4 separate regions of the Homo sapiens genome follow, and all the other regions are linked to region 4. The links come from fine-mapping of genetic effects on gene expression. A gene starts in region 4. Each other region holds a variant in brackets. All regions are shown on one strand. Distances are between the middles of the regions. Region 1 has its middle 40 kb from the start of AKR1C3. Region 2 has its middle 41 kb from the start of LINC02561. Region 3 has its middle 19 kb from the start of LINC02561. Region 4 holds the start of AKR1C8 (aldo-keto reductase family 1 member C8).

Region 1 (8,216 bases), 51 kb after region 4:
CAAATAATACTTTTATAATTTCTTATGCCTGTCTTTACTTTAATCTCTTAATCCTGTTATCTTCATAAGCTGAGGATGTACATCGCCTCAAGACCACTGTGATAATTCTGTTAAGTGTACACATTGATTGTAAAACTTGTGTGTTTGAACAATATGAAATCAGTGCACCTTGAAAAAGAACAGAATAACAGTGATTTTTAGGGAACAAGGGAAGACAACCATAAGGTCTGACTGCCTGCAGGGTCAGGCAAAAAGAGCCATATTTTTCTTTTTGCAAACAGCCTATAAATGGACGTGCAAGTAGGGAAGATATCACTAAATTCTTTTCCTAGCAAGGAATATTAATATTAATACCCTGGGAAGGGAATGCATTACTGGGGTGAGGTCTATAAACGGCCGCTCTGGGAATGTTTTTCTTATGTGGTTGAGATAAGGGCTGAGATACACCCTGGTCTCCTGCAGTACCCTTGGGCTTACTAGGGTGTGGAAAAACTCCACTCTGGTAAATTTGTGGTCAGACCAGTTCTCTGCTTTCGAACCCTGTTTTCTGTTGTGTAAGATGTTTATCAAGACAGTACGTGCACCGCTGAACATAGACCCTTATCAGTAGTTCTGCTTTTGCCCTTTGCCTTATGATCTTTGTTGGACCCTTATCAGTAGTTCTGCTTTTGCCCTTTGTCCTGTTCCCTCAGAAGCATGTGATCTTTCTTAGACCCTTATTAGTAGTTCTGCTTTTTGCCCTTTGAAGCATGTGATCTTTGTACCTATTCCCTGTTCTTACACCCCCTCCCCTTTTGAAATCCTTAATAAAAATTTGCTGGTTTTGAGGCTCAGGCAGGCATCACGGTCCTACTGATATGTGATGTCACCCCTGGCGGCCCAGTTGTAAAATTCCTCTCTTTATACTGTCTCTCTTTATTTCTCAGCTGGCTGACACTCATGGAAAATAGAAAGAACATACACTGAAGTATTGGGGGCAAGTTGCCCCAATATTGTGCCAGTTTTCAAAGGGAATGCTTCCAGTTTTTGCCCATTCAGTATGATATTGGCTGTGGGTTTGTCATAAATAGCTCTTATTACCTAGTTTATTGAGAGTTTTTAGCATGAAGCAGGGTTGAATTTTGTCGAAGGCCTTTTCTCCATCTATTGAGATAATCATGTGATTTTTGTTGTTGGTCCTGTTTATGTGATAGATTACGTTTATTGATTTGTGTATGTTGAACCAGTCTTGCATCCCAGGGATGAAGCTAACTTGATCTTGGTGGATAAGCTTTTTGATGTGCTGCTGGATTCGGTTTGCCAGTATTTTATTGAGGATTTTTGCCTTGATGCTCATCAGGGATATTGGTCTAAAATTCTCTTTTTTGTTGTGTCTCTGCCAGGCTTTGGTATCAGGATGATGCTGGCCTCTGTCTTCTGCATCAATCACGCTGGGAGCTGCAGATGGGAGCTGTTCATATTCAGCCATCTTGGAATGGACTCCCAGTGAGGGAATAGTTTCTAGCAGCCAAAAGATTACATCCTGCTGAAGGTTCAGAAAATTGTTAGCATTTTGTAACAAAAAATGTTTAAATTAAGATATGTATATTGTTTCCTTAGACAGATACTATTGCTTACCTAATATAAAATAGTGTAAACATAATTTTTACATACAGTTGAAATTTAAAAATTTATGTGATTCATTTTATTGTGGTATTTGCTTTATGTTGGTGGTCTGGAATGTGACTTTTAATAGCTATAAAATATGCCTGTGTTTTATATCTTGTTTATCTCTTGTCAGAATTTTTGACTAAATGTTATTTCGTCTGATTCTAGTACAGCTATCACACCTTTTCTTTGGTTACTATTTTCTTAAAATACTTATTGTTGTCCTTCATGTTCACACTATTTATGTCCTCCTCTAAAGGAAGTTTCTGATTCAGAACATATAGTTGCATCCTGGATTTTTTAAAACCCATTCTGCAAATTGTCCTTTTGATGTGGAAATTTAAGCCATTTACATTTAATGTACACTTATGAAACACATAGCAAAGCACATTAAGATATCATTTTACACAAGTGAGAATGACTATTCTTAAAATGTCAAAAAACAACAGATATTGGTGTGGATTCATCAGGGATGTTAATCATGGATCATGCAAACTGGAATACAGTGGTATGACCTTGGCTCACTGTAGCCTCTGCCTCCCAGGTTGAACTTATCTCCTGCCTCAGCCTCTTGAGTAGCTGGAATTATAGGCATTTGCCACCACACGTGGCTAATTTTTGTATTTTTGGTAGAGACGAGGTTTCGTCATATTCGCCAGGCTGGTCTTGAACACTGGATCTCAAGTGATCCACCTACCTCAGCCTCCCAAAGTGCTGGGATTACGGGTGTGAGCCAACGTGTCTGGCCCAATCATTACATTCAAATTTGCCCTCCAAAGAGAGACACAAGTAAAAATTAAGGCATGTGAGGATTATTCACCAATTTATTGTAATTAGATTCCAGTTTTATGAATAACATTTAACAGGATCACAAATTATGTAAAATAGTTACCAGTTTTTTGGAACATTACCTTTGATAGTTTCTTATAAAACTATGTGAAAGATACAAATACTATAAGGCACTGTTTCCATATTACAAATGATGTCCAAAGACCAGACATTGTTAATTAATACTCCAATAAACATCATGTCATAATTTCTGCATTTTCTTTTTCCTTTGAACCCTTGTCAGGATTACAACATCATCAGGACTGCATTTTCATCAGGAATGAATATTCCTTCTACAATGCAAAGAAAAAAAACCCAAAATATTTGCTGATGGAAAGGTAAAAGGAGAAATTTTCTTTGGTTTTAATGTTTAACTTTTTTATTGTCACCTGTTAAAAAATGCTTACTAGTCATTCCTTTAGCATCATGTGAGAGAAAGATGTACAATGATTGATCATTTATATGACATAAAATAAAGATGAAACATCATCACGGCATGAACAAAAACGAGACTTGTTGCTGGAGTTGTTTTATAGTCCAACATATGATAATTAATCATTCTATAAATCTATTGGAGGAATTTATGAGATAGACAGATGATAGATGATAGATAGATAGATGATAGATGATAGATAGATAGATAATAGATAGCCAGATAGATAGATAGATAGATAGATTCCAGATGGAAAATTTTACTTTAGTAAGAAAATAATAATTTTATTCTGACTATATTAAAATGTACTTAAGAATTCTCTTTGATAAAAAACAAGTGCACTGGATTCAATTTTCTTCATAGCCTGTGTAATACACCATCACTTGCCTCTTCCTACATGACATTGGTCAGCCCCAGACAGTGGGCAGTGTAGCATTGCCTGCCCATTGTTTATACAACCTGTGAATATAAATGCTGGATGTTGAAGAAGGAAACCGTGTCTGCTTAGCGAAAGGAATGACATTCAATGGATCCCAAATATCAGTGTGTGGAGCTAAATGATGGTCATTTCATGCCTGTATTAGGATTTGGCACCTGTGTACCTCCAGAGGTAACATAATCATATTTTCAGTGTTGGGCATTTAAAAGAGCAAAGCTAGAATAAGTAGATGACTTGGGTTTTAGCTTTGTGTTCCTGTGTTACTCTGCGTGACTCACCTGGTCTGTTTTAATAGGCCAGAGCTATTCCATGTTCAAAGAGAAAAGGTAGTCAATCTTTGTTCTGCATTGGGGTCTGGTCATATGGTCGTGTACTGCTTACTTTTATTTTGTGCACTGTTTTTTTCTTCTGTTTATGGGTGTTCCCAGCTTTGCAGAATATTTAAAACTCAAGAGTGAAGAACGCTGCCTGGCATTTCCTTTTGTAGGTGATTGACTGCAGTGGAATGGTTTCTCCGTTTCTTTCTATAATTGAAGAAATTGTTTGTTCTTCCAAGTATACATGATCGAACAAAATCTTTGTGGTAACAGTGTCTGGAGACGGGGTGTATGAAAACTCTTAGGGAGAGTATTGCTGAGCTGCTGTGTGGCCTTGAGCATGACAGAGTAATAATACTGGTCTTGGACTTAATACAAGTTCCCATGTACAACTTTCACCTCTAGGAAAATTAAAAGGAAAAATAACTTTAAGAAAAAACTAGAACCTCGAAGGAGAAATTTTAGATTTTTGGTCCATGTTAATATGCATCAGATTTGTATCAAAATGGTATGGATGGTCCCCTGACATGAAAGTAGGCAAAATGGAGACTTTATTTTCTAGACTGAACTATTTCTATACTGGAAGAAAACGTGTATTCCAAGGCTACTAAGTGCTTGAATAAGGACTAGTCAT[A/G]TAAAATTTGTCTCACTTTTCTCAACTGTACATTGTAAGAATTTACAGAGAGACATCTTGAAGACCATCAACACTAGCGGTTTACTTTGTAATGAAAATTGGCATGAGGGGGAAGTAAGGAAAAGCACAACATGGAAGCTTTAGCCTTGGTAAACCTTGAGTGCCTCCACAGCAAAGAGAAGATCAGGGCTGGTATCAGGGGAAGGCAGTGAGACCTGGCATCTAGTTCCTTTTAATATCATTGAAAATAGAAAGCTTCTGAAATACTCATATTAAAATAGAAAATTGTTCTATTCATGGCTTTGTTGTTTAAAAAATGTACCTTTCAAATCTTCATCCAAATTTGGTAGATAAATCAATAATTTTAAATTTCACTGAAATTATATCTTTCCTAAAAAAGTTGTCCTTATTTTTTAAGACTAAAATATACTTTACTAATCTTTTACAGGTTGCAGTTAATTTCTTATGTATAAATCTACATCCTTGGAGTGTATGTCTTTACTCGTCATATTTACTTCTGTCATGCACACAGAATGGCTAATGGCTGTGTAGAAAGGAGTGAACACAACAGACTGCCACCCGTAGATGTACCTGTTTTCAAAGTTGGAGGCCAGAATTTCTCACCATTTCCTAACTAATAAGGGTGCTGTCTATAATTAACTGCTTGTACAAAGTGTGGGGTTTCTACATATCTGCTTTGTTTACAAGACTTGGAGTTTTGTGTGTGGTACACAGACTGGGTCAATGTAATCAGTACCCAGGTAAATCTTGGGAATGAAGTGTCCAAATAGCATCCCTTGTAGACAACATTTCCCCTATATTCTCAAAATGTGATGCTGGAGGAAGTCAGTGTGTTTTGTGCAACATCACTGAGAGAGGAATCATAGGAACTTGCACTGTATTCTTCCTGTAGTTCCTTCCATGTGCCTTCTTCCATGTGTTAATTTCACTATATTAAAAATAATTAGGAGGCTTCCTGCAGTGGCTCACGCCTGTAATCGCAGCATTTTGGGCGGCAGAGGCAGGTGGATCCCTTGAGTTTGGGAGCTTGAGCCTGGGCAACATAGCGAAACCCCGTACCTACCAAAAATACAAAAATTTAACTGGCATAATAGCGCGCATCTGTGGTCCTAGCTATTTGGGGAGACGGAGGTGAGAGGATTGTTTCAGTCCGAGATGAAGTGGGGGAGGGGCAGAGTTTTCAGTGAGCTGAGATTGTGCCACTGTACTCTAGCCTGGGTGACAGAGTGAGACTCTGTCTCAAATAATAATAGTAATAATAAAGACTATATTTATAACTGTAATTTGAGTCTTGTTAATTTGTCCAACAAATGACTGAATCTGAGGTTGTTCTTGGGAAACTCATTGCTAGTGATCAACCAGGAATTACCTGGGATTGAAGAGGTCCAGGGATACCCAACATTTATTACTAAGCAGGAAAGACTAAAGCAAATTGGGATGGATTTATCACCCCATATATAGAACTAACCCAAGATGCAAGAATAATGTGATTTTTGTGAGGGTCATTGTTTGTGCCTGAACTACCTGTTGAGCACATTGATCACCAAATACTACTTTTCATTACTCCTCCGGGTTCCTAGGAATAGAGTTGTGGAGGTTACAAAATTAGCAATAGAAGCTGGTTTCTTCCATATTGATTCTGCTCATTTATACAATAATGAGGAGCAGGTTGGACTGGCCATCTGAAGCAAGATTGCAGATGACAGTGTGAAGAGAGAAGACATATTCTACACTTCAAAGGTACTGTGCCTATGATAAGCATGCATGCACATGTATTTAATGTGATAGTGTGGAGATGACAATTCTGTAACTGGATCTGTAGGTGGGTGAATTGTGCTTATTGGTTCCAATTTATTGACACATATTCATGTATTAAAACTAAAATAAAAGGCGGCAAATGATGATGTCTTTCTCATCATTGTTGTGTTCAAATTTGTTACTTGAAAATCACTTTACTTTTTTGAGCCACAGCTCAGATCAGTAAAATATTTTTTATGCGCTCATTTTTTAATTTCAATGGCTTTTGTGGTACAAGTGGATTTTGGTTACATGAATGAATTCTATAGTGATGATTCTGAGATTTAAGCGAGCCCATCAGGCCATCAGTGGACACTGTACTCAATATGTAGGCTTTTATCCCTCACCTTACTCCCAACCTCCCCCAACACTGAGTCCTGAAAGGCCATTATATCATCTGTATGTCTTTACATCCTCATAGCTTAGTTCCCACTTATAAGTGAGAAGGTACTGTGTTTGGTTTTCCATTCCTGAATTACTTAGAATAATGGCCTTAATCTCCATCCAAGTTGCTACAAAAGACATTATTTCAATCCTTTTTACATATACACCATTCTATGATGTACATATAACACATTTTCATTATTCATGCATTGGTCAACGGACTCTTAGGTTGGTTTTATATTTTTGCAATTGTGAATTGCACTGCTATACACGTGTGTGCATGTGTCTTTTTCATGCAAGCTTTTCTTTTTGATAGATGCCAGTAGTGGGACTGATGGATCAAATGGCAGATCTACTTCTGAGTTCTTTGAGGAATCTCCATACTGTTTTCCATAGGAGTTTTACTCATTTACATTCCCACCAGCAATGTAAAAGTGTTCTCTTTTCACTACATTCATGCCAACTTCTACTGTTTTTGTTTTTTTTTTTACTTTTAAATTATAACCATTCTTGCAGGAGTAAGGTGGTGTCTCACTGTGGTTTTAATTTGCACTTCCCTGATTATTAGTAATGTTGAACCTTTTTTCATATGTTTGTTGGCTGTTTGTATATCTACTTTTGAGAAATGTCTATTCGTGTCATTTGCCCACTTTTGGATGGGATTATTTGTTTTTATCTTGCTGACTTGTTTGAGTTCCTTGGAGATTCTGGACAATAGTCCTTTGATGGAAGCGTAGTTTGCAAAAATTTTCTCTCATTCTGTAGGTTGTCTCTTTACTCTCATGATTATTTCTTTTGCTGTGCAGAATTATTTTAGTTTAATTAGGTCCCATTTATTTATTTTTGTTTTTTGTGCATTTGCTTTTGGGGGTCTTAGAGATAAATTCTTTGTCGAGGCCAATGTAAGGAAGAGTTTTTCCAATGTTATCTTCTAGAATTTTTATGGTTTCAGGTCTTAGACTTAAGTTTTTGATCCATCTTGAGTTGATTTGTGTATAAGGAGAGATGGTATCCAGTTTCATTCTTCTACATGTGGCTTACCAGTTATCCCAGCACCATTTATTGAATAGAGTCTTTTCCCCAATTTATGTTTTTGTTTGCTTTATCAAAGATCAGTATTTGACTTCATTTCTGGGTTCTCTATTTTGTTTCATTTATCTAAATGCCTATTTTTATATTAATACTATGCTCCTTTCCTAACTACAGCCTTCTAGTATAATTCAAAGTCTGGTAATGTACTGCCTCCAGATTTCTTCTTTTTGCTTAGTATTGCTTTGGTTATTGTGGCTCTTTTGTGGTTCCATATGAATTTAGAATATGGCCATTTTCAGAGTATTGATTCTATCTGTAAGCATGGGATGTTTTTCCATTTGTTTGTCTTATGTATCATTTCTTTTAGCAGTGTTTTATAGTTTTCCTTGTAGAGATGTTTCATCTCTTTGATTAAATATGTTCCTAGGGATTTTATTTTATTTTATTTACAGCTGTTGTAAAGGGCTTGATTTCTTAATTTGACTCTCAGCATGGTTGTTGCTGGTTTATGGCAGAAATCAATTTCTGTACATTGATTTTGTAACCTGATACTTTACTGAATTTGTTTATCAAATCTAGGAGACTTTTGGATGAGTCTTTAGGGTTTTGTAGGTATATGATTATATTATTGGCAAACAGCAATACTTTAACTTCCTCTATTCAAATTTCAATGCCCTTTCTTAC
Region 2 (8,216 bases), 130 kb before region 4:
CCCTTCCTGTGTCCATGTGTTCTCATTGTTCAATTCCCACCTATGAGTGAGAACATGCGGTGTTTGGTTTTTTTGTCCTCACGATAGTTTGCTGAGAATGATGGTTTCCAGCTTCATCCATGTCCCTACAAAGGACATGAACTCATCATTTTTTATGGCTGCATAGTATGTGTATATGTGCCACATTTTCTTAATCCGGTCTATCATTGTTGAATGGCGATCATTAAAAAGTCAGGAAACAACAGGTGCTGGAGAGGATGTGGAGAAATAGGAATACTTTTACACGGTTGATGGGACTGTAAACTAGCTCAACCATTGTGGAAGTCAGTGTGGCGGTTCCTCAGGGATCTAGAAGTAGAAATACCATTTGACCCAGCCATCCCATTACTGGGTATATACCCAAAGGATTATAAATTGTGAGATGACTTCTAACATCTGCTCTTCTTCCTTTACACAACAGCTTTCAGCCTTTATTCTCTATTCTTCCATTGCATTTAGCTCTGCTCGTCAATGTCCATGTTACAGTAAGGGCAGTCCTTTGTCTCTTTCTTTCCACCTTTCTGACCTTACCTTCACCTCCCTCCACCCAACCACACACCCCAGACCCTGTTGTCCAGGCGCTGCAGATGTGTGGCCAGGAACCAACATGCCCGGACTCCGTGTTTTCAGCCTGCTCCTCAGCAAAACAAAGAAACGGAGCCTTTGGCGGCTGTCTTGGTTTACTCTCCCATCTCCCTTTCACGGTGTCCTGCTTTAAGACACAGAAGGCCTATTAGCCATGCTCACCTAGACAGGATTAGCAACAACTTGCTGCCCAGGTAACTACCACCTGGGCAATCTTCAACCTTAGCGATGGCCAGCGTGTATTTGCTTTGTTCAGCTGCTGTGTTTGCTTTTCTAACTGCTAATGGCCCACAGTTAGAGGGTTAATGAGGCAATAGGTGCTCTTCTGGCTAATTAAACTCTCAGCAAATGTGAAGCATTAGGTCAGATGATCTGAGTTCTCATTTGTCTGGAGGGATATGTTAATAGGAAAACTCTTTCCCTTTACTCATTTGAATGTTCTAAGGGCATGGGGAGAAGGTGTAGCTCAAGGGAGAGGGAGTATGCCCCCACATCATTTAAGGGGAAAGGATGTGGCCATCAGTGTGGCTTGATGAATTTTGTTTATAGTTCTAGAGATTCTCAGGATGGCAGGATGGTTCACAGCTGGGCCCCTCACTGGGCAGGAAACAGCCCCACCCAAGGTCACTATTCACCCTTCTGGCGTGGTTCACTGCCAATGACTGCTGGTGCAGACATCTGAAGTGCCAGCCCCTTGCCTCAATTTGAGACAACATAGAAGGATTATCCACAATCTAGAGCTCTCTGCAGGTATAGCCAAGACCTCTGTTGCAGCTGCAGCCAAGACCTCTGTTGCAGCTGCTTCCTGGGTCATCTTCTCTCTGGGCCCAGTCTTGCTTTCTCATGTCCTCACAGGTGTATCTCCTGGGAACACTCCCTCAAGACATTCTGCATGCAGCTGTCTGTGTCAGTCTTTCTAGGGATCCTAGTTTAAGATACACACATATTGCATCATTTCTTCAGCGGGAGCTCCCATCTGCACCTCCTCAATGTAGTGTCTGATGCAGAATGCTCATTTAGCGTTTATTGAATGAACGGATGAAAGAGTGAAGACAAATCTTGGTGGATGGGGTGAGAGAAGTTTCGAATTGTGCTTTGGCCTTAAGTTGAGCTCTGCATTCTAACACTTCACAGGCATCAATCTCAAAGTGCAGCAGAAAAGAACTGATAAAAATCTCATTTTAAAGCAATTACTGAGAGTATGGAAAATGACTTTCACAAGGAAGCGTAATGTTAAGATAACACAACTTTTACAATATTGCCTGGAATGGCTGCTATCTTTTCAGCAAAGTGACTTTAGGTTTGAGTGTTGGGCAGTGGTACCAAGTACCAGGAACCCTCTGACCACCAGTACTGTTGATGTTCCCTTCACTTCTTACTTTCTCTCCCAGGAACTCATTCTAGATCCAGAAGCAAGTGAGAAGACCTGGACCCACAGGGTTATTTAGGGCTGTTGTGGGCTGGGTGATATCCTTAAGTCCCCCACCTCCCACCACAACCCCTGCAGCCCCTGGGCTCTGCTGACATCAGTCCTCCACAACCGTAGCTCAGATCCCATGCCTCTACCCCAAGTGGTCTGTTGGATGCTGGACATTGGTCGAAGTTCTTAGGGGCTTTGATCTTAGGGGCCTTCCTTCCCTCAACCATGAAGCCACCCTAAAGGGGTGGTCTACTGTGTTATTCAAGGACCCGGTCTGAACAAGCTCACAACTTCCCCAAGGACAGGCCCATTGGCTCTGCCGGGGGAGTCCCTGAAGGGCTGCCACGGTACCCCAGTGAAGGGTAATTATTCCTCGGCTTTCACACCCATCGTTAACCATTTCCACAACCAAAAGAATTTTTATTAAATCTTTTTTGTCTTCCTTAAACAACTTCAGGCTCTTTTCAGGCAAAGTCATTGTCTAACTCATACTCACCCATCTCAGAGAGGCAATGATAATAAAGTTAAGGTTTGAGTGCTCTTTCTATCATGAGCCAAGTGTTTTTTTCTTTTTAATGTCTCAAGTGATTAAATCATTTCAACACTCCTAGAAGGTATTACTATCACCGTATTTTGTAGAGGAGAATACTGGTGACCAGGGAGGTTAAGCAGTTTGTCCAATTTATTGCAGACCAAGGAAAGGGAGGCCCAGAAAAGTTAGGGAAATTGTCCACTAACACTGTGAGTAAGTGGCAGGGCTGGTGTTTGAACCAGGCAGCCCGGCTCAATCCCACCCTCTGGGACACCACTCAATGGTATTGCCCTCTGAATAGTGGGACATTCTGCAAAGAACACTGGGTCACCTGGTTGTAACCTCAGATCTGCCACTGACTTTCTGGGGGAGCTTGGGAGAATCACCCAGCTCCTCTGGGCACTTGTCTGGGTGGCCTCTAGGGCTCCTTTCAGTTGGATGGTTCTAGAAAGTCTCCTTGTTATTTCCTCCTATCTCAACTTCTCACTCTTGACAGAGAACACTGGCGGCATGTGGAGTAAAAGAAGTACTTTCTTGGCATAAGAAAAACTTCAATGCCTAGTCCCTTTCAGGGAAGAGGTGGATGACTGGTTTGCAATGGGTGCCAGCTCTTGAAATACGCTTACTGTAGGTATGATTTCCCCTAATCAGCAGAGGTGCTGTTATTCCAGCAAGCGTCAGAATATGGGCTCATAAATATTATACTCTCTTGTGCTATTGTGGGCAATAGGGTACTTGACATCATCTAACAACACTTCAAAGTCAAGAGTCAATTGTTGCTGTTTTAGTGACTCTTCTTGGTGTCTGAATTAGCATCTGCTATGGTTTGAATGTAGCCCCCAGATTTCATGTGTTGGAAACTTAATCCCCAAATTCATATGTTGATGGTATTTAAAGGTGGCACCTTTGGGAGGTAAATAGGATTAGATAAGGTTGAGAGGGTGGGGCTCCCATGATGGGCCTGGTGGCTTTAAAAGAGGAGGAAGAGGGACCTGAGCTGGCACATTTGCTGATGCCCTCCACCATGTTATCACACAGCATGAAGGCCCTCACAAGATGCAGTCCCTCAACCTTGGACTTCCCAGCCTCCAGAACCATAAGAAATACATTTCTTTTCTTTATAAATTACCTGGTCTCAGGTATTCTGTTATAACAACAGAAAATGGACTAAGACAGCATCCTCCCTCCTAAGTCTTTGTGATGTATTTAAAATCTCCTTTAAGGGGCAATAAAACCAAGAGGGCTACAGAGCTTCAACCTGTGGCTTGTCAAATGCAGCCTGGTCACCAGAATGCCATGTGTCTGCAGTGTGGCGGGGGGACAGGCAGAGCTTTCCAGCCTCCAGCCTCTGTCTCAGGCTGGCTTGTGGCCCAAACAGGAAAGGGTGACAGCTTTGGTTGAAAACATTTTTTTTTTCCTGTAAATGATAAATACTTTATGGGAAGGTTAACATGCTAAGATAGTATTCATAAGTAGTTCCTTATGAATCCTTTAAGTATTCATAAGTAGTTCCTTATGAATCCTTTAAGTATTCATAAGTAGTATTCATCAGTAGTATTCATAAGATAGTATTCATAAGTAGTTCCTTATGAATCACACAATCCTTTATAACCGTTAAGAGTAAGTTTTCTTAGAGGGAGCATGAGAATTTCTCATTTTCTCATTTCTCTTCTGGCAAAAAGTGCCTTAAAAAGTTTCTATTCAACAACTTAACCCTCTTTTCCAACATGCTTTTTTTTTTTTTTTTGAGACGGAGTCTCACTCTGTTGCCCAGGTCTAGGCTGGAGTGCAGTGGTGCGATCTTGGCTCACTGCAAGCTCTGCCTCCCAGGTTCACACCATTCTCCTGCCTCAGCCTCCTGAGTAGCTGGGACTACAGGCGCCCATCACCATACCCAGCTACTTTTTTGTATTTTTAGTAGAGACGGGGTTTCACC[G/A]TGTTAGCCAGGATGGTCTTGATCTCCTGACCTCGTGATCTGCCCGCCTCAGCCTCCCAAAGTGCTGGGATTACAGGCTTGAGCCACCATGCCCGGCCTCTAACATGCTCTTTTGAACTCACTCCCATGGTGCTTTTTCTCTCAAGGACACCAGCAAACTTGATTCTTCTCAGGGACACCAGCGACATTCATTTTGTCAAACCAAACAATCCACTCTCCCTTCTTGTGTTACTTGACCTGTCAGCACCACTGACATGCTAGGCACCTGCACAGATTCCCACATGTAGTGGGTTGGGAACAATGAGCTTGGAGGGTTCATGGCTTTAGAGCAAGTGGAGGGAAGCCTGCCCTTTGCCTAGGGAAAGACATTACTTCCTCCCTGAAGGCTGCTTGCTATAAGCACAACCCTGAGACACAGCCCAGGCAAGATGCAGTCAGGACCATGCATTCTGGGCATAGCTGGCAAGAAAATGCAGTGACGTGGAGGGTCAGGTGGAAGGCCTCTTCCAAAAGTGTGTGTCCCAAAGGCAATCATTCTCAAATTCCTGAACCCTGGTTCTCCAGCATCAGTCAAGCTTAGTCTTACTATTAATTAATTATCAGCAAATATCCCCATGTTAACACACACCTAATAATGATTATAAGGATAACTCACATGTATTGAGCATGTACCATGCGGTAAGCCTGACTATGGCCTCATGTAATCTCCACAACCTCTCAGTAAGGAAAATATTGTTTGGCTCATATAGATTAGGTAATTCAACAGAGAATAGTAAGTAGTGGAACTGATATTCAAACCTACATATGCTTGGCTGGGCATGGTTGCTCATGCTTGTAATCCCAGAACTTTGGGATGCCAAGGTGGGAGGATCCCTTGACAATAGGAGTTCGCTATTAGCCTGGGCAACACAGTGAGACCCAGTCTCTACAAAAATAATTAAAAAATTAGACAGGTGTGATGGCACACACCCATAGTCTCAGCTACTCGGGAGGCTGTGGTGGATCACTTGAGCCCAGGAAGTTAAGGGGGCAGTGAGCAAGGACTGTACCACTGCATTGTAGCCTGGGTGACCCAGTGAGATCCTGTCTCTAAAAAAACACACAAACCGAACCAACACACACAGAAAACCTATGTTTGCTTGATTCCAAATCTGTCCTCTTTATGCCTCATCACCCTTCCTGATAGGATTAAATGTGCAGCATTGCATGACGTACACATATAAGAGAGTAAAGAAGGAAGGAAGAGGACCAAGAATCACGTTTTAAGAAATACTTGAAGAAGCCAAGTGGTGAATTTTTAAAAAGAGGGATGGTGAACAACAATGTATGAAAGCTCAGGCAGATGAGGTCTGAGGACAGAGCAGTGCTTGGCTGCTTGTGTAGAAAAAGGGCTTTGGGTGGGAGCATGCTTATCCTCTTCTCTCTGTTGGTCATGAATTACAGTTGGACTTTCAGGTTAGCTGACTGACAGCTTATACATTTTGTAAGATACAAGAACTCAAGACAATGTAAATCCAAGGGTGGAGTGGAGGTAAGGGCCGATGGAACAACTCACAGCACCAGCCAGCTGGAGATGGAGATATGAGAGGCAGCAGGCAGGATGACTGATGGTGGAGCCCATGGGCTTTGGTGTGAGACTTGGCTTCAAACACCTGGACATCATTTTCTAGCTCTTTTGAGAGTTAGGTCTTAGGAAAATCTTTTTATATCAGATTCTGAATTAATTGAATGTAATCAATAGCTATTTAGAAAGGAAGATGAAAAATATGCAGTCTTCATTGTGAAATAGATAAACCCCATGCTTAGGAAAAGCTTTTAATTTGAAATTTTACATAGAGTTTTTGTTTAGTGTTTTTTTTTTTTTTAAACTAGTAAATGGCACACATCATCATTTTCCTCAGCTGAGTAATATACGACCCTGGTGAATAGTAGAGAAGTAATTATTTCATTTACTTTATCTCTATCATTTTTTCCAAGGGAGAGTGGGTCTGTGAAATTTTCAGAAGCTCAATATGTCTGACTTGCAAATTAGCAGAGCTGAAAGGTGGAGAGGCTACCTTACTCTATCATCTTGGAGAGACACTTGATTGCAGAAGAAAATAAAGGCATTTAAACGGCACTTACAGAATGTTTTCTACCCTGGACTTTGTTTCCTCATTCATTCATCCCACAAATGTTTGTCAAACACTTCCTATGCCAACCATTGTTTTGAGGGTTTAATGAAAATTAAAGCTAGAAGAAAACACATGAGTCTTTTTTGTTGATCAAAACTATTCAATAGCTTTATTCTTCCATTCCATCAATATTATATTCATCTGATTACTCTTAAATTCCAATATTCCAATACACAAAGTCTCCTTTCTCTCCAGCCAACTGGTCAACTCTTTGCACCTAACTCACCACCCCATCTTGTTCGTGTTGTCATCATTCTGCCTGCCAGGAACGTTCACTCCTCTTCAGTGTATAATTTTTTTTTTCCCGTCAGATTCTAATTCAAGTCCCACTACTTTCATGAAGCCCTCCTCACCTGCTTTAGCCTGTGAGACTCCTGGAATCCTTCTAACAGCTCTCATCCCTGAATGCCCGGATGACCTTTTCTGATTATAAAAATATTGCAGGATGAGTAAGGAAAATTTGAAAGAGAAGGAAATATATCACCTCAATTCTTCTTTGCAGAGAACATTATACTTGGCATCTTGTGAATTTTTTATATGGACTTAAAAAAGCAGAACTGATGTAATAATGCATATAAAATTTTATATCTTATTTCTCCTGCTTAATGTTATATAATTACTATTTCTCCAAGTTATTAAAAACTTTCAGTTATTATTTGTAACATTTGCCTGATTTTCCACTTGAAATGTGTACCATAATTTACTCAATAATTCCTCTGTCATGAAAAATTTAGTTTGAGTTTAGTTTTTTCCTATCATAAATAACCCTGAGATAAACATAAGGCTTACTCCATATTATAAATTATTTACTTAATTAAAAATCTTAGAATTGGAATTACTATATCAAATGATGTAAACATGTTGATATATATTGCAACATTGTTGTACAAAAGGTTAATATTAATTTTCATTCTTGAGTAGACAGTTATTTCACCATATCCTCATTAGCACTAAGTATTCTTTAATAAAAACAAAACAAAAAACTTTGCTAACTTGTGTCACCTGTTTGTCATTTGGCACATGCAGCAATGATCTTCTTCCCGAAATACATTAGTCACCACACTCCCAAATCAGAGTCAGGTTATAATTTAGATTGTACTATTGATTTGAATACCCACTTAGACCTCTCGAACCTCCCACCTCACTTGTTGAAAAATTACTGTGCCCTCTGCAAAGTAAGCTGCGGTGACAATGAGGATTTCACAGCTCCTTCTCCTCTAGGATGGTCATCTTCTTTTGGGATGCAGCCTCAGGGGTCCCTGTGTTCCTTCTCCCTTTCTTCATACTGGCCCCTTCTTCGTTGGGCAACTTGTAATGTTCCGGGAGCTTTGGTGGCTTTAACCAACAGCTTCTTGCTGTTTCCTCAGTTGGCAGTGTGGAGTTATAGTTTTTTCCCCCAGCATTTGTCAGTGTTGAGCATATTTTTCTCATAACTGCTCCCCCCTTCTGCGATGTGAGATCCTATCAATATCGTTCTAATGGATCTGCCTTTCCTTCATTTCCTGTGTGGACTCTGCCCACGCCAACATG
Region 3 (8,216 bases), 100 kb before region 4:
TCCAGCTGGACTTGGCCACTGTGAGGCGCTGCTGAGAGCAGAAAGGGAAGCTGGAGTCCAGGTGCCTTTCTTCCCTTCTCTAGGGGACACAGCAGCAGCTTCCATCCCTCCAGTCGTCCTGGCTGCCTCCCTCAGGCCCTCCATGGCTGCTGCTTCTTCCAGGGACCCCGGGCTCTGCCTCCAGCACTGCTACCTCTGTTTCTCTAGCCTAGGAGGGTAGCGACTTCCTGTGTTTAAAAGCCTCTGGGTTGCTTTATTGTTTCCTGACTGGCTTCTTTGTAGATACTCCAACCGTCTGATTACACATCCTGTTTAAATAAGCAGCATGGATTTTTATATCCTGGTTCATGACTGATGCTGTTACCTCAAGATGCCCCTGGTGTTCTGAACCTCCTCAGGGCTGCCACCCTGCACCTGTCCACAAGCGGCCACGCGTGAACTCCCCCTGTGGCCACCATGCTGGCCTCCTGTGCTGCTGTGTTCTCTGACTAGAGCATTTGTCACTCAGCTGGGCATAGCTGTACTCTGCTGAGGAAGGCCCTGCTGTTAGTCCCAGCCCTGAGGGGAGGGATGACGAATGCTTTGCTGCTCTGTTTGAGTGCAACATGGGCCTCTCAATTTCCCACTGCAAAAAACAGTGTTGGACGCAATCTTTCATAAGGATTTAGAGATAGTTTGCAGATCACAGAAAATAAGAACAGAGCACAGAAAAACTTAAAAAAAAAAAAAACCCCACTGTGCCTATGCTTAGAACTCAATTTCATTCATTCCGCAAATATTTATTGAGCACTGACCACATACTAGGGAGCTTTTCTAGGTGTGGTGATTAGTGTTGGAGAAATCAGTCAATAAATATGAAAACATACCACAAAATAAGTGAATAATTCAGGCAATTGCTCTGGTCACAATTGTTCTGAAGGAACTAAAACTGAGGAGTAAGATGGAGAGACACAGTGGGGACTGGGGAGCTACTTTGATTAGAATGACACAGGGACAAAGACATCACCAAGAAGGTGAGACTGAAGCCAGAAACCAATGATGAGACAGAGGGGGTGATCGAGGCTCTGGAAAACCTCTGCACAGGTAGGTACGAGTCTCTATGTGATGCCCACATTTTCCTAGAGAAGAACTTGACAAGGACATGTCCATCTTGTTGCAGGGGCAGGGAGTGAGTCTCAGGAGATCTCAATTGAGTCTGTACCTTTGCTTGGGATGCAGGACCTGGGAGAGGTAGCCCAGAGCAGCATGAAGGCCTTGGCTGGGGTGGGGCAGGCCTGGGAGTGAGGGGCAGTGAGCAGCCCCAGAACACTATGACCCTGCTGCTATGGCCTCCCTTTGCCCTGTGCAATGAATGGAATCTTTACATCCCCACCAAAGTCGTATATGAAGCCTTAACCCCCAAGGTGATGCTATTTGGTGGTGGGTCCTGTGGAGGTGATTAGGTCGTGAGGGTGGAACCCTCATGAATGGGATTAGAGCCCCTCTTAGTCCATTTATTGTTGCTATAAAGGAGGACTTGAAGCTGGGTAATTTATAGAGAAAAGAAGTTTATTCAGCTCACAGTTCTGCTGGCTGGAAGTTTCAGGACTGGGCTTCTGGTGAGGGCCTCAGGCTGCTTCCAAGTGTGGAAGAAGGTGAAGGGGAGCTGGTGTGTGCGGAGATCGTGTGGTGAGACAGGAAGCAGGAAGGAGGGGAGGGGCCAGGTTCTTTTTAACAACTAGCTCTCATGGGAACTAATAGAGTAAGACCTTACCCCCCTCCCCTGGGAGGGCATTCATCTCTTCATGAGGCGTCTACCCCATGGCCCCCAAGCCTCCCATTAGACTCCATCTCCAACAATGGGGATCAAACTTGAACATGGGATTTGGAAGGGACAAATGTCCAAACTATACCAGTGCTTCTGATAAAATAGCCCCCAGAGAGATTGCGTGCCTGTTTCGCCACATGAGGACAGTGAGAGGACAGCTGTCTGTGACACGGGATGCAGGCCCCCGCCAGACCCTGAATCTGCCAGCACCTTGATCTTGGACTTTTAGCTTTCAGATCTGTGAGCTATCTATGTCTTTTGTTTATAACCCTCCCAGTGTACAGTACTTTGTCACAGCAGTCTTAACGAACCAGACTCCCGGTCAGAAGGTGTGGTCTTAACCAGACTTTTCAGAAGGCATTTTGAGAACTCTGAAAGCTGATCTTTTTGGCTCCCTACTTATGTGGGGGTGGTAAAAGAGGGGTAAGGTGTGTTTCCCCAGAGAGTCGGGCAGCATTTCTCTTTGTTGCTTGACAATGGATTCCCATTTATTCAGAGAGGATTATATGGGTGTGTCTTAGTCTGTTTCCTGTTGTGTAACAGAATAGCCGAGACTGAGTGACTCATAAAAAACAGAAAGTTGTTTGGCTCAGTCTTGGAGTCTTGAAAGTCCCAGATCACAGGCCCCACATCTGGTGAGGACATTTGTGCTGTGTCATCCCATGGCAGAAGGCAGGGGGCACGAGCGCAGGGGTAAGAGGATGAGAGACAAGAGAGGGCTGAAATGACTTTTGCAATAAACCCACTCTCACGATAATGGACCCGTTTTCGCAATAATAAGGTCAGTGCTTCATGACAGCAGGGCCGTTATGACCTAGTGACCTCTTAGAGGGCACGTCTTTACACTGTTGCACTGGGGATTATACTTTCAACACATGGACTTTGGGGGACACATTCAAACCACAGCAAGGTATTTGGCATTTTATCGCCATGCAATGTTAACATTTCTCTCATAACCCTGGGTTAGCCTTTCCTCGTGAATTGCAGCATCCTTGCTGAACTCTTGTTCTGTATGGTTAAATCTCCTATCAGAGTTTTGGGGCTGTATCCAACTCTTTGTAGTTTTGCTGTAAATAATGACTTTTCTTTCTGTCCAGCAAAATGTTTTAAAACAAGATGATACTTGATATGGAATGGCTCAAACATCCTTTATTCCTCTGATAAATAACTCACTTGGTGTGAATAATTCAGGCAATTGCTCTGATCACAATTGTTCTGAAGAAACTAAAACTGAGGAGTGAGATGGAGAGACACAGTAGGGACTGGGGAGCTACTTCAATGAGAGTGACACAGGGACAAAGACATCACCAAGAAGGTGGGAAGAAATTCTTTATCCCCTCATCATCCTATCTGGTGGTCCCCACTAGAGAAAACCCGCCAGGATTTCTTTCAGTGCAGCTAAAAAGGTGATGCTGGTGGCTGAGACTAGCTCTGAGAGGAGAACAAGCTTGCTCAGTTCTTTAAGGCCTCAGTTTTTAGCTGGCGGGTGGACTGAACGTTAGACAAATTTTTAACCTGTTGAATTGTGGACTCCAGGCAGTTCACATCAATGAAGACAGAATTTTCTTGTGACTTGATACGGAACATCTCTATTTAGTGCAAAAGCTTTAGCAATGGAATATAAAGGATATTCTCATCAAATTTATAGCAAACACAATGTTGAGATAAATGTAACCACATGGACTCATAGAATCAGACAGAGTTCTGACCTTGACCAGCCAGAGGGATGAGTTGAAAGTAAGATAAATTATAATTGTATGTTTCATAATTGGCTGTAAAATACGGATGGCACAAATACAGGTTGCAAGAAGCACAGTATAATAGAAACATTAAAGAAAACATGAGTTAGGTGTTTTATGTAGCAGAAGTTCCTTATTAGTTGAGAATGTAATTTGAATGATGTGGTTTTTTGGCCTGGACGGTAGAAGCTAAAGAGTATGCAGGGAAGGGCATCAGCTTCATCTAGGGAGATCATAGAAGGAGTCATAAAGGATGTGTGACTGGAGGAGGTGCATTTTAGATAAGTAAGAAGTCATTAAACTGCTGAAAACTAGGTGGGATAGAGAAAGCTGTTCCAGAAAGAGGCAATGGCTGAAAGAAAGGCAAGAATACAGACATTTATCCATGATTTCAGACAATTTTTTCTCACCAAA[A/C]GGATTCAAGAAAACAAGATCGAGACCATCCTGGCTAACACGGTGAAACCCCGTCTCTACTAAAAAAATGCAAAAAATTTAGCCGGGCGTGGTGGCGGGCGCCTGTAGTCCCAGCTACTCGGGAGGCTGAGGCAGGAGAATGGCGTGAACCTGGGAGGTGGAGCTTGCACTGAGCCGAGATCGCGCCACTGCACTCCGGCCTGGGCAAAAGAGCGAGACTCCGTCTCAAAAAAAGAAAAAAAAAAAAAAAAAGAAAACAAGACAATGAGAATCAAAAAACGAAACGGTCCTTGGTACAGGAGACAAAGATAATGAAAGTAGGAGTAGGTCTTCCTAAGAAATGTTGTTACGTGTGTGCTTGGGACCAGGTGTCAGGCTTTGTTCAATAAATTTTCAGTGAGGTATTGTTATGGGATTTATGATGAAAGGAATGGTGAGGAAGCTAACTTAGGTACTCTGGGAAAATTAGTGTTTAGATTCACTAGCCTAATGATAGTTTTATACCTTGTAAAATAAGTCTGGTGCCATTATCAAAGACATATTTGCATGCTTTTTTTGAACTTTTATTTTAAGTTCAGGGGTACGTGTTCAGGATGTCCAGGTTTGTTACACAGGTAAACCTGTGTCATGCGGGTTTGTTGTACTGATTGTTTCATCACCCAGGTATTAAGCCCAGTACCCATTAGTTATTTTTCTTGATCCTCTCCCTCCTCCCACCCTCCACCCACTGATAGGCCCCAGTGTGTGTTGTTGCCCCGTATGTGTTCTCATCATTTAGCTCCCACTTATAAGTGAGAACATACAGTATTTGGTTTTCTGTTCCTGTGTTAGTTTGCTAAGGATAACAGCCACTATCTCCATCCATATTCCTGCAAAGCATGTGATCTAATTCTTTTTTATGGCTGCATAGTATTCCATGGTGTACATGCACCACATCCTCTTTATCCAGTCCATCACTGATGGGCATTTGGGTTGATTTCATGTCCTTGCTATTGTGAATAGTGCTGCAATGAACATACACAAGCATGCATCTTTATAATATAAGAATTTATATTCCTTTGGGTATATGCCCACTAATGGGATTGCTAGGTTGAATGGCACTTCTGACTTTAGGTCTTTTGGGGAATCACCAGACTGTCTTTCACAATGGCTGATCTAATCTATACTCCCACCAACCGTGTATAAGCGTTCATTCCTCTCCACAACCTTGCCAGCATCTGTCATTTTTTTGACTTTTTAATAATAGCCATTCTAACTGGTGTGAGATGGTGTCTCCTTGTGGTTTTGATTTGCATTTCTCTAATGATCTGTGATGTTGAGCATTTTTCATATTTGTTGGCTGCATGTTTGCCTCCTCTTGAGAAGTGTCTGTTCATGTCCTTTGCCCACTTTTTATTGGGGTTGTTTGTTTCATTCGTGTAAATTTGTTTAAGTTCCTTATAGATGCTGGATATTAGACCTTTGTCAGATGCATGGTTTGTAAAAATCTCTCATTTTGTAGGTTGTCTGTTTACTCTGTTGATAGTTTCTTTTGGCATTTTAAATTTTTTAACTTAGAAATCAAGTGTGTACAACACTGAAGAGAAAATTCAAACTCCTCTAGCATGCAAATCTTTCTGTACGATTTTCCTGTAAGACAGGCCTGCAGAGACATGGAAGAATCAGAACAAAGTCAATGGATTGATTTCAACTTCATGTTGAAATTATAGGCAGCTGTAATCTCTGCCCTGCCCATCTTGTATTGATGGAAATAAAGAACGTGGCAGCCTTGTCTCCTACTGGGCTCTCAGTCAGGAAATGGAAGGAAAGGCAGAGTCAGATTAGCTGAGCTGTGGGTGGTGATGGATCTGAAGCAAAGCCATTCCGTGAGGCTGAATGATGGACATGTCATGCCGATGCTGGGATTTGGCACTTATGCTCCTGATCATGTAAGTGGACCCCAGGAGGCTGAAGGGTCTTATATTTTTTTGCACTAAGAGGATGATAAGCTGTTGACTCTGAGAGTTTGGAGGTTAATTTTTTGGATAATTCTTTTTATTATTATTATTGTGACCTAACATATATCAAATGGTTTCATGTATTGTATTTTCCATGCATTATCTTATTTAATTCTTCAACAACCGTCCTTGGTAAGTACTCACTACTTCTTACATTAAAAAAAAAAAAAAAAAAACCCATGCTCAGGCTGCTCTCATCTTCCACCTGCTCAGAGCCGCTCCACTCCTGGTTAGAAATGTGAAGGGCCAAGGGCCTAGGGGGAAGTGGAAACCAACATGAATACTTGCTGGCAGCTTTGCTGTGAGGTTGTTGGGGCTGGAAGTATTTGCCAGGGAGTTTCGACCATCCAAACCTTTTGTCACGTAAGAAGCCACTGTGATTCAGAACATTAGGTAATTCGATGGGAAGACTTAGGGGGCACAACATCACAGTAAGGACTGAAATACAGCCATCCACTCAGTTCATGGCAGAGAACTTGAAGTGTCACACTCTGGTCACGGTAACGTAAGGGCAGCTTTGGGGTTGCTTTGGAGGGATTGCCCCCAAAATGAGAGACCAATGGATGGGCTCAATCTTGGTAGAACTCTGTCATGAGATATCACGAGATAACAGCTGCCAGAAAGGGTCAGTAGGTTTTCAATGACATAATTATCCATTTCATCCATTAGGCATAATGTGTGTCTTACATATGTTATATGTAATGTTTATTACTCTTAGAAAAGACAGAAAAAAGTGCCATAGAGAATAGAACAAAATTCCCCATAACCCCCTCATTTACCATAATAAATTGTAATACGTGCACGTGCTTAATATTCAGACATTTCAAATGCACTAAGTGAAAAAGAAGCTTCCTTAATACTCTAATTGGTGTTTTTACCTTAAGTCACTGCAGGAACGAGAAGCTTTTTTCCTGCGTGTGTGTTGTGCTGTCTTTTGTCCTGCTGTTCTAGGAAGCTTGCTAGGGCAGAATCTCAGATGTAGTCATTAGACTATCCACTGTTTGAAATTTGAGGCAGAGCGTGTACATATTATCATCCTAACGTTGCAACGCCAGCTTGGTGAGGTGACGTCTGTGTCCTGGGTAAAACCAGGCCAACTATTGACTGCAACCCTTACTAATAACATAAACAGTTGATTAACACCTATTTTGCATGTTATATGTATGGTATACTGTATTCTTATAATACAGCAAGCTAGAGAAAAGTAAGCTAGAGAAAAGAAACTCAAGAAAATCATAAGGAAGAGACAATATATTTGCTACTCATTAAGTGGAAGTAGATCATTACAAAGGTCTTCATCCTTGTCTTCTTCACACTGTGTAGGCTGAGGAGAAGGAGGAAGATGAAGGGTTGGGGTTGCTGTCTCTGGGGTGGCAGAGGCAGAAGAGGTGAAGGAGGGGGAAGGGAGGCAGGAGAAGTAGGCACACTTTGTAATTTTGATTGAAAAAAATTCATGTATAAGTGGGACTGTGCAGTTTAAACCTGTGTTATTCAAGGGTCAGCTGTAATATGTATGTAGTGTGTGTGTGTGTGTGTGTGTGTGTGTGTCGATTGACCTGTCCTTCCTATTGAGTGCCTTAGAAAAATTCTCCCAGTATCAGAAGTTTTCCCGTTGGTTATTCTTGTACAATTGATTCATATGGAATGAGATGTGATTTTTCCATGCTCCAGGGTGAAGCCAATTCCACTAATTTATTTGGGAGTAGAAGCTTACAGGAGGTTAGTTGCTGTCCTCGGAGTGTGCAAGTCTATCATGGAAACCCAAATGATCAAAAGGGGAGCAGGAGGCCAGCAGACTATGAAGATGCTATTGGATAGCAGAGACATGGGCTCAACCTAAATGCCCGTCCGTGGTAGACCAGATAAAGAAAATGTGGTACATAAACACCGTGGAATACTGTGAAGCCACAAAAAAGAACTAGATCACGTCCTTTGCAGCAACATGGATGAAATTTGAGGCCATTATCCTAATCAAACTAACACAGAAACAGAAAACCAAATACTGCACGTTCTCACTTACATGTGGGAGCTGAACAACACACAGGGATACTGGGAGGGGAACGACAGACATCGGGACCTTTTGAGGTTGGAGGATGGTGGAGGGAGGGGATCAGAAAAAATATTTATTGGGTACTATGCTTATTACCCAGGTGACAATCTGTACACCAAACCCCTGTGACACAGTTTACACATATAACAAACCTGCACATGTGTCCCTGAACCCAAAGTAAAAGATTAAAAAAAAAAAGGAAAATGCCA
Region 4 (8,216 bases):
TTAATGTGATGAATCACATTTTTAATTTGTGTATGTTGAGTCAACCTTGAATCCCAGGGATAACACCTACTTAACTGGGGGAAGCCACCATTGTTTCTGTGTTTCTTCCTTTATCAGAATGTTGTTGTGTGTCTCATAACTGTACATTGAATGAAATTGGCTTAAATTTTCACATTAAAAGGAAGATTTGCAGAATGGATTTTAAAAAATCTAGAACCCAACTCTATGTTCTGAACTAGAAACTCACTTTAGGTGAGGACATAAATAATATGAACATGAAAGACAGAAATAGGTATTGTATGAAAGTAGTAACCAAAAAAGAGCTGTGATAGCTATACTAGGACCAGACACAATACAATTTAGTCAAAAACTCTGACAAGAGATAATCAAGACATAGTACACAGGCATACGTTATAGATATTAAATGTTGGGTTCCAGACCACCAACATAAAAAATAGCACAAAAATGAATTACATAATTTTTTTATTTCAACTGCATATAAAAATTATGCATACACTATTCTGTAATACATTAGGTGAGCAATAGTATCTAAGGAAACAATGTACATACCTTAATTTAAAAAAAATTTTGTTACAAAATGCTAACAATCATCTGAACCTTCAGCAGGCTGTAATCTGAACTCCAGTTCAGACCTTTCCCCAATAATTCAGACTGGAATGACAAATTGTCCATTCAGCACCTCCTCTTGAGGGTCTAATGGGCATTTCAAGCTCAGGATGCCACAGAAAAAAATTTATTTAATCTCCATGCAATTTAGCTCCACCTTAAATTTTCACAGTCTCAATGATTCCTTTCTTTCCATCATAAAGAACTAAATTTGGGGAGTGATTCTTGCCTTTTAATATTCTCTCATAACCAATATAAAATCTGTGAACAAGGCCTCTGATGTTCACCTTAAAAATTACCCAGAATCTGACCACTTCTCCTCACCTGCTTTACAACCATCCTGTTCCAAATTACTCAATTTCTTACATTGGTTATTAAGTAGCTTCCTAACTAGTTTTCCACTTTTATCCCTCACCAACCTACATTCTACTCTCTACACAGCAGCTCAGTTTCATTCAGTGTCTTCTTATCTGTCCTAGAGTGAAAGCCAAATGCTTTCAGTGGCCTACAGGGCTCTGCCGAAACATGGCCTTCCCTTCCTTTCTGACCTCTTTCCTAATCCTGCTGTTCCCAGATCACACGTGGCCTTCCCTGGCTACAGGGACTATGCCCTTCAGGATCCCTCTGCTTGAAGCCCTTTTCCCTCAGCTGTCAGCAAGGCTGGCTTCCTCCACTCCTTCAGGTCTTTTCTTAAATGTCTCTGTCTCAGTGAGGATCCCCTGCTTAAGCTATTAAGCTATTTGTAATTTCAATTGTCCCTGCCCTCTTTCCATACTCTACACCTTTCCCTACTTTTTTCCCTTCACAGTGCTTCCTATCATACAACATGGTTTTCATTCTATGTAATTATTAGTTTTTTGTCCGTTTCTGTCTCCTTGAAAGTGAGTTCAATGCAGGCTTCGATTTTTGTCTGTTTTTAATGCCGACAACAGTATCTTGCACGTTATAGCTACTCACTATTTATTTTTGAATGAAATACACTTTCATATAATTCTTGAATGTGTTCCATGGAGGCCATTGCAACATATTTTCTGGCACTCCTTCTACCTCTTCTTCCAGAATTGCACGTTTCCTTCTGTTTCCTTGGGTGCCTTGCTATATTATAATTGCCATTTGCACTCTGTCACCTTGTGTAGGTTTTAAGCTGCTAAGGTTGTAGTGACTTGTGTGCAGCCATGCAGAGTTGATCTAGTACCTCTGCTCAGATCCTCAATGGGCTGCAGTAAAGGCATAAGTCTAAAGCAGGGTCTCCTGAAGGCTTAGAGGGGAATAACCTGCTTCCAAGGTCAGGGGGGAACTGGCAGGGTTTGGTTTCTTCTGGACTGTCTGAATGAAAGCCTCAGTTTTGAGCTGGCTGGTGACCAGAGGCCCCACTCAGCTCCTCTCCATGTGAGCCTCTCCTATGTTGCCACCAATTTTATCAAAGTTTGAAAACTGAGAAAACAGTAGAGTTTCCTAGCACAATGGAAATTACAATTTTGTATTTCCTAATGATGGAAATAATATCACTCTTCTTTACAATAGTCAATTGTTTAGAATAAAGACACAAGTACTAGTCACAGTTGATGAGAGGGCATTATACACATTATACAGGGCCATAAATACCAGGAGGCAGGGATCACAGGGGAACAATTTGCCATCTGCCCACCTCTTATCCAATAAACCATGAGCTCCCTGAGAGCAACTCATATCCTTGGTAGCTTTTGAAAACCTGAGGAAGTAAAAATAGTGCCAGGAAACCATGGACGAACACCTTTCCAGTTAGGGAAGATGGATTCTGAAAAGTGCTTGCTACAAAGCATGACGTCAAATCTGTAAATGTTTTAGGATAATGCTTAAGGCAAGTTTAAGGGAGCATGAAGCCCTGCTTTGGATTTACTAAGAATAAAATTGGCACACTCTCTTTCACTAACAAATTTCCTAGACTGCTAAATTAGGGAAGTGACAGAGAAATGTCTCTTACTTGGGTAAACCATTTAGTGCAAAATACAGGTTAATATTGCAAACATGTTAGACAAATTTTTAATCTAGTGAATGATGAGCTTCAGGCTATTACCATTAATAGACATGCTTTTTTTGTGACTTGACACAGAACTTAACCCCATCTCTGTAGGGTTCTACAGTTTTACCAGTGTAATATAAATAGTATACTTGCCAGATTTATAACTGATACAATGTTGTGATAATTATAAACTACAGGGAATCAGAATCAGGCAGAATTCGGACCTTGAGCAGCCAGAGCTATGGGTTCAAAATAAGATAAATGACAACGTCATGTTTCAGGATTGCCTCTAAGATACCAATGGCACAAATACATGTTGGAGAAAGCACCGCATAATAAAAACACCAAAGAAAATACCACTTAAGCATCTTATCTAGCAGAAGCTCCTTATTAGTGGAGAGTGTAATTTCAATGATGTGATTTTTTTTGACCTGCTTCATAGAAGCTAAGAGAATAAGAGGCACACAGAGAAGGCTGGTCAACCTCACCCAGGGAGGTTATAGAAGAAGTCATCTTCTCTTTTTATAGTATTTCATAATGTGATAATTAAATCTATTACTTAAAATTTGAAAAAAATAAAAAAAAAGATGAAGAGGTGTTTTTAGCAATAACTGGTTACCCTGCTGATTATTTCAAAGTCTGTTATGTTATGTTATTTTATTTTATTTTTTTGAGAAGGAGTCTTGCTCTGTCACCCAGGCTGGAGTGCAGTGGTGCAATCTTGGCTCACTGCAAGCTCCGCCTCCCGGGTTCATGCCATTCTCCTGCCTCAGCCTCTTGAGTAGCTGCGATTACAGGTGCCCACCACCACGCCCGGCTAATTTTTTGTATTTTTAGTGGAGACAGGGTTTCACCGTGTTAGCCAGGATGGTCTCGACCTCCTGACCTCATGATCCGCCCACCTCAGCCTCCCAAAGTGCTGGGATTACAGGCATGAGGCACTGCACCCTGCCCAAAGTCAGTTATTTCGAACCATTTAAGGTATTAACCTTGGTCCAGACCTGTTGTCCTCACCTACAGAGGATGAAAGTGTCCAAAGTGAATTATGCAGAAGGCCATTTAGGCTGAGCCTCTTGGCATCTGAATTGGAAGCCATTTTTAATTTTCATTTTTCTCATGGTTGCTGTGTGTGTGTTTATGTTTGCAAAAGCAATTTAGGCCCTGGAATTCCAAGCTGTTCTGTTAAGACCCAGGCTGCTTTGCTATCTCCTATCTTTGTTCAAAACAAACAAACAAAAAACAACAATAAAAAGAAGGAGTCATAAAGGATGTTAGACTGTAGGAGGTGCTTTTAGGATAAGTAAAAGATAAGAAACCCGCTGGAGACCAGGAGGGAGTTAAGCAGGCTGTTCTAAAAAGAGACAATGGCTGGAACAAAGGCAAGAGCATAGAAATGTATCCATGATCTCAGACAAGTTTTTTCTGCAAAACATTCAAGGAAACAAGTCAGAGAAAATGGAGTGTGGCTTGACACAGGAGGGAAATATACTGGGAATAGGGGTGGGTGTTCTTAAGAAATTTCATTACATGCATGGCTGGCACTAGGCCTCAAGCGTTATTCAAGGAATTCTAATAAGCTGTTTTAAAGGGATTAACAATCAAATATAAGTGAGAAAGTTAACTTCAGTTCTGTAGTAGAATTAGTGTTTTGAAATGACCACCCTAATAATAACTTTGCCTCTTGTAAAGGAAGTCTAGTGTACTTATCAAGGACAAATTGGTGTGGTTCATTTTTCAACTAAGGAATCAAGTGTGAACAACACGGAGGAGAAAATCAAAGTCCTCTGGCATTCACAGCATTTCTGAGTGAGTTTTCTGTAAAATACTCCCACAGAGACATAAGAATCAGAGAAAAGGCACTGGACTGATTCCAGTTTCATTTTGAAATCATTGGCAGCTGTCATCTCCATCCCGCCCATCCTGCATTTGGTGCAAATAAAGAACGCAGGAGCCTTGTCTCCTACTGGGCTGTCAGTGAGGAAAAGGAGGAAAGACAGGTTAGCTGGGGATGATGACGGATCTGAAGCAAAGCCATTCAGTGAGGCTGAATGATGGACCCTTCATGCCAGTGCTGGGATTTGGCACTTATGCTCCTGATCATGTAAGTGGACCCCAGGAGGCTGAAGTTTCTTAGGTCAGCTGTACTTGCAGGGCAGTCATCAGGCAAGAGCCCTGCACTTGGGTAGACAGTGGATGCTTGGAAGGGCTCATCTGGGATTTCATTTAACTGTCTCTAACTTGCTCCTCTCAAGGTCACAGAGATCTTTTTTGCTTTAAGTGGCATGGCAAGTTATTGATTGTGGGGATTCTGAGATTGATAATTTTGTGGGTATATTATCTTTATTTCTATTAAAAGTATCAATGTTACCTAATATATCAAATGCTTTCCATGTATTTTAGGTGTTTTACATGCATTATCTTATTTAATTCCTTAACAACTGGCCTAGGTAAGTACTCATTAAAATTTGTTACGTTTTAAAAATGCAAGCTCAGACTGTTCTCATCTTTTGCTCTGGTCAGAGCCACTCTACTCTTGGTTAGAAATGTGAAGGGCCAAGGACCCAGGAGGAATCAAAAGCCAAAATGAATACTTAGTGGCAGCTTTGCTGTGAGGTTATTGGGGCTGGAAGTATTTGCCAGAGAGTTTCAACCATCCAAACTTTTTGCTATATAAGAAGCCACTGCGATTCTGTTACAGTCTCATCAATGTATTAAAAATATAGTAGTCTTTCATTTTGAGGGATTATCTGAAGTTTTTTGTCTTATGACTGAGAAAATTAAGGACTGTGGACACAAAGGGTAAGGTTGGAGTGAAAGTTTAATAAGTGAAAGAAGGAAGATTTTCTCGAGTAGAGAGGGGGCCTGGATGGATTGTTAACTATGAGGTCAGGTCTAGGGTTTTGATGGACTGGGAAAGAAAAGAATTTGTTGACTGGTCTTGGAGAAAGTGTAACTCAGCTTGTCCTGGGACCTTGGTCTGGGACCAATCAGGAGTTGAAGTGATAGCTTGGCCTGGGACCTTGGCCCAGGAGCAGTCAGATGCTGAATGATAATTCATAAAGGCTCATCTCACGGTCCACATGTCCACAAAAGGAAAGGAAAGTGCCCACCAGAGCCCACTGGAGCCCACCATATACATGCCCACAAAAGAAAAAGAGACTTTCCTAGAAGTCTGTTGGTTACACAAAAGACAAATGTGTTTCTCTGTTGGTTCTTGTTCTCATATGAGTGCAGTTGTTGCCATGTCTTAGGCATAAAGGACAAAGGCATTTTGATGTTGGGCCTTGTTTTTTTATCTGAGTGAGCTGGAGGTTTGTGTAAGTTTCCTTATCTGTGTGTGTAGTCTGATTTTTTTCAAGCTGTTTCTCTGTTTAAAGGAGTTTTACCAAGAACTCACTCTAACTGTTTAAGTTTTTTCTCTCATTTTTACCCTCAGGAGTGGAGTCCCTAATTGTCAGGGAGATTGGGTGTTGACTTTTCTGGCTATTTTTTTGTCGGATGGTGGTGTCATGTGGGGAACAGTAGTTAGAGTTCTTCCTGGGGTTGGTTTAATGATCTTTGGAAGAAAGATATGTTTATGTGTGGTGTTATTAGTATTACCATTTAGAGTTTGATAGTTTTTATGTGAGAAGAAATAATTTGGGCTATTAGAGTACATGTATTAAAATGAAATAAGGGGGGATAAGGATAGTTTAAAAATTCTGAGGTTGTTGATACGTCCTGATAATTGGTAGTTATAGTTATGTCTGTTACGATTTCGGTGTATGGAGCTTGGTTTTGCTTAGTTTTTTTGGTCTTCTTTTCTCAAATAAAGCAACCTCTGGATTATGGGTATTCTATATATTCCTATGACCTGGTAGGATTTGTAGGATAATTGTTCAGAACTAGAATATTGTTCTAAATTTTATATTATTTATCTTTTACTGTTTTTATTTTTTGTTGTAGTCAGAGATTGTTGGTTAGTTCATAAGAATAAGTAGGGTTAGTCTAAAATGTAGGTAAACATTTAAAAATAATTAGTGAGACTAGAATTTAATAACAAATGTATGGCAAGTTTGACACACTATTTTTCTCTCTAGTTCTTATTTTTGTCAAAAACAAGTCATGATAGGATAGTACTGAGTTGTTTGTAAAATAAATTTTAGTTTCATATTTGGTCTGATTATCTGTATAAAGAATAGTAAGAATAATTTTTTTTTTTTTTGAGACAGAGTCTGCTCTCCTGCCCAGGCTGGAGTGCAATGGCATGATCTCGGCTCACTACAACCTCCGCCTCCTGGGTTCAAGCAGTTCTCCTACCTCAGCCTCTTGAGTAGCTGGGACTACAGGTGCATGCTGCCACACCCAGCTTATTTTTTGTATTTTCGTAGAGACAGGGTTTCACTATGTTGCCCAGGCTGGTCTCGAACTCCTGAGCTCAGGCAATCTGCCTGCCTCGGCCTCCCAAAGTGCTAGGATTACAGGCATAAGCCACCACACCTGGCCTTACAATAATTATTTTATATAGGGTTTTTAAATTGGTTTTGATGGAATTCTATTCCATAAGTAACCTCAGATAATAATACCTCAGTTTAAAGTTGAGTCTAGTCATGGGTTTGTACTCTCAAATATTTATGAGTTGGGTCAATTTTTCTCTTTTTGAGGTCCCAAGAATATAGGGTTCTTGAGCCTGTTAGAAAGTGACATTCTTTATTTATTATAGGTTAGGAACCCTGTTTGGGAACTGCATAGACAAGGTATGAGGCCAGTTTTTCTAAGAGGTTTTTATTGGTTTCGGAAGTTAAGTTTGATTATTCAAAGGGAAATATATCCTTCCAGTCAAAGTCTTGGTAAAATAATCATTTTTAAAAATTGTGTCTTGTAAAAGAAAATGGATTTTTATTGTACTGATGTAAGCAATTATATTGTTATAAGTCTTGAATATTTATAATTAGTTTCTGAATTTCAGAGGAACCAGGTAGAGATAAATAAATATGTTTTAAATTTTGTTCACAGAAGTGTATGTTATTCAATCGTTAAAAGTTGTAGTTCTTTCAAAAGTTTTTTGACTCTGAAAAAAACAAAATGATGATCAGTAATTTTTTAGTGAAAAGTTAAAAAGGATTACTTCAGTTTTCTATTAGTCTATTTTGTTAACTCTTGTTCTGTTTGATATTTATAAACATTTTAGTTTTTTGTGAGTCTTGCATGTTTTTTTATTAGAAACTTGTATTTGAGAGTGTTTGTTAAAGTCTTATAGTTGATTATAAATCATCTTTTGAAGTGGATTAAAACAAGGTAACAATTGCCTGTGAATGACAAAATGTCCAGGGTAGTTGTAGCTAAGAATATGATTGACAAAGTAATTTGGTTATTTCTGTGGTTTACAATAGTTTAACACAATAACCTTAATTATGATTGACAGTATATATTTAGACATTAGAATCTTAGACATCTTATATGGTTTTGGAACATACATTAATATTATTTACTGAAATATAACTTGAGGAAGATTAAATATCATTTTGGCAGTCTCACATATTTAAATATGTCAAGTGATCCTGTTCACTTTTTTGGGGTTGTTTTAGGGGCCTTCTGTAGTATTTAA

Evidence for each region. PIP is the estimated chance that this variant, and not a neighbour inherited with it, causes the effect.
Region 1: its variant is fine-mapped to the expression of AKR1C8 in whole blood (TOPMed, PIP above 0.99).
Region 2: its variant is fine-mapped to the expression of AKR1C8 in blood mononuclear cells (TOPMed, PIP above 0.99).
Region 3: its variant is fine-mapped to the expression of AKR1C8 in whole blood (TOPMed, PIP above 0.99).

The regions. Positions count from the first base shown.
Region 1 is chr10:5,130,445-5,138,660 of GRCh38, reverse strand. It overlaps a transcript of AKR1C8 not described here. Among named protein-coding and RNA genes, the nearest start is that of AKR1C3, 40 kb to the right of the region's middle. The variant A/G (reference allele first, on the strand shown) is at 4,299.
Region 2 is chr10:5,307,700-5,315,915 of GRCh38, reverse strand. No RefSeq gene overlaps it. Among named protein-coding and RNA genes, the nearest start is that of LINC02561, 41 kb to the right of the region's middle. The variant G/A (reference allele first, on the strand shown) is at 4,513.
Region 3 is chr10:5,286,080-5,294,295 of GRCh38, reverse strand. No RefSeq gene overlaps it. Among named protein-coding and RNA genes, the nearest start is that of LINC02561, 19 kb to the right of the region's middle. RefSeq lists an enhancer at 1,910-3,109. The variant A/C (reference allele first, on the strand shown) is at 3,961.
Region 4 is chr10:5,181,526-5,189,741 of GRCh38, reverse strand. AKR1C8 (aldo-keto reductase family 1 member C8) reads left to right here and starts at 4,592. Exons shown (of 9, transcript NM_001395972.1): 1 at 4,592-4,730. The coding sequence starts at 4,638.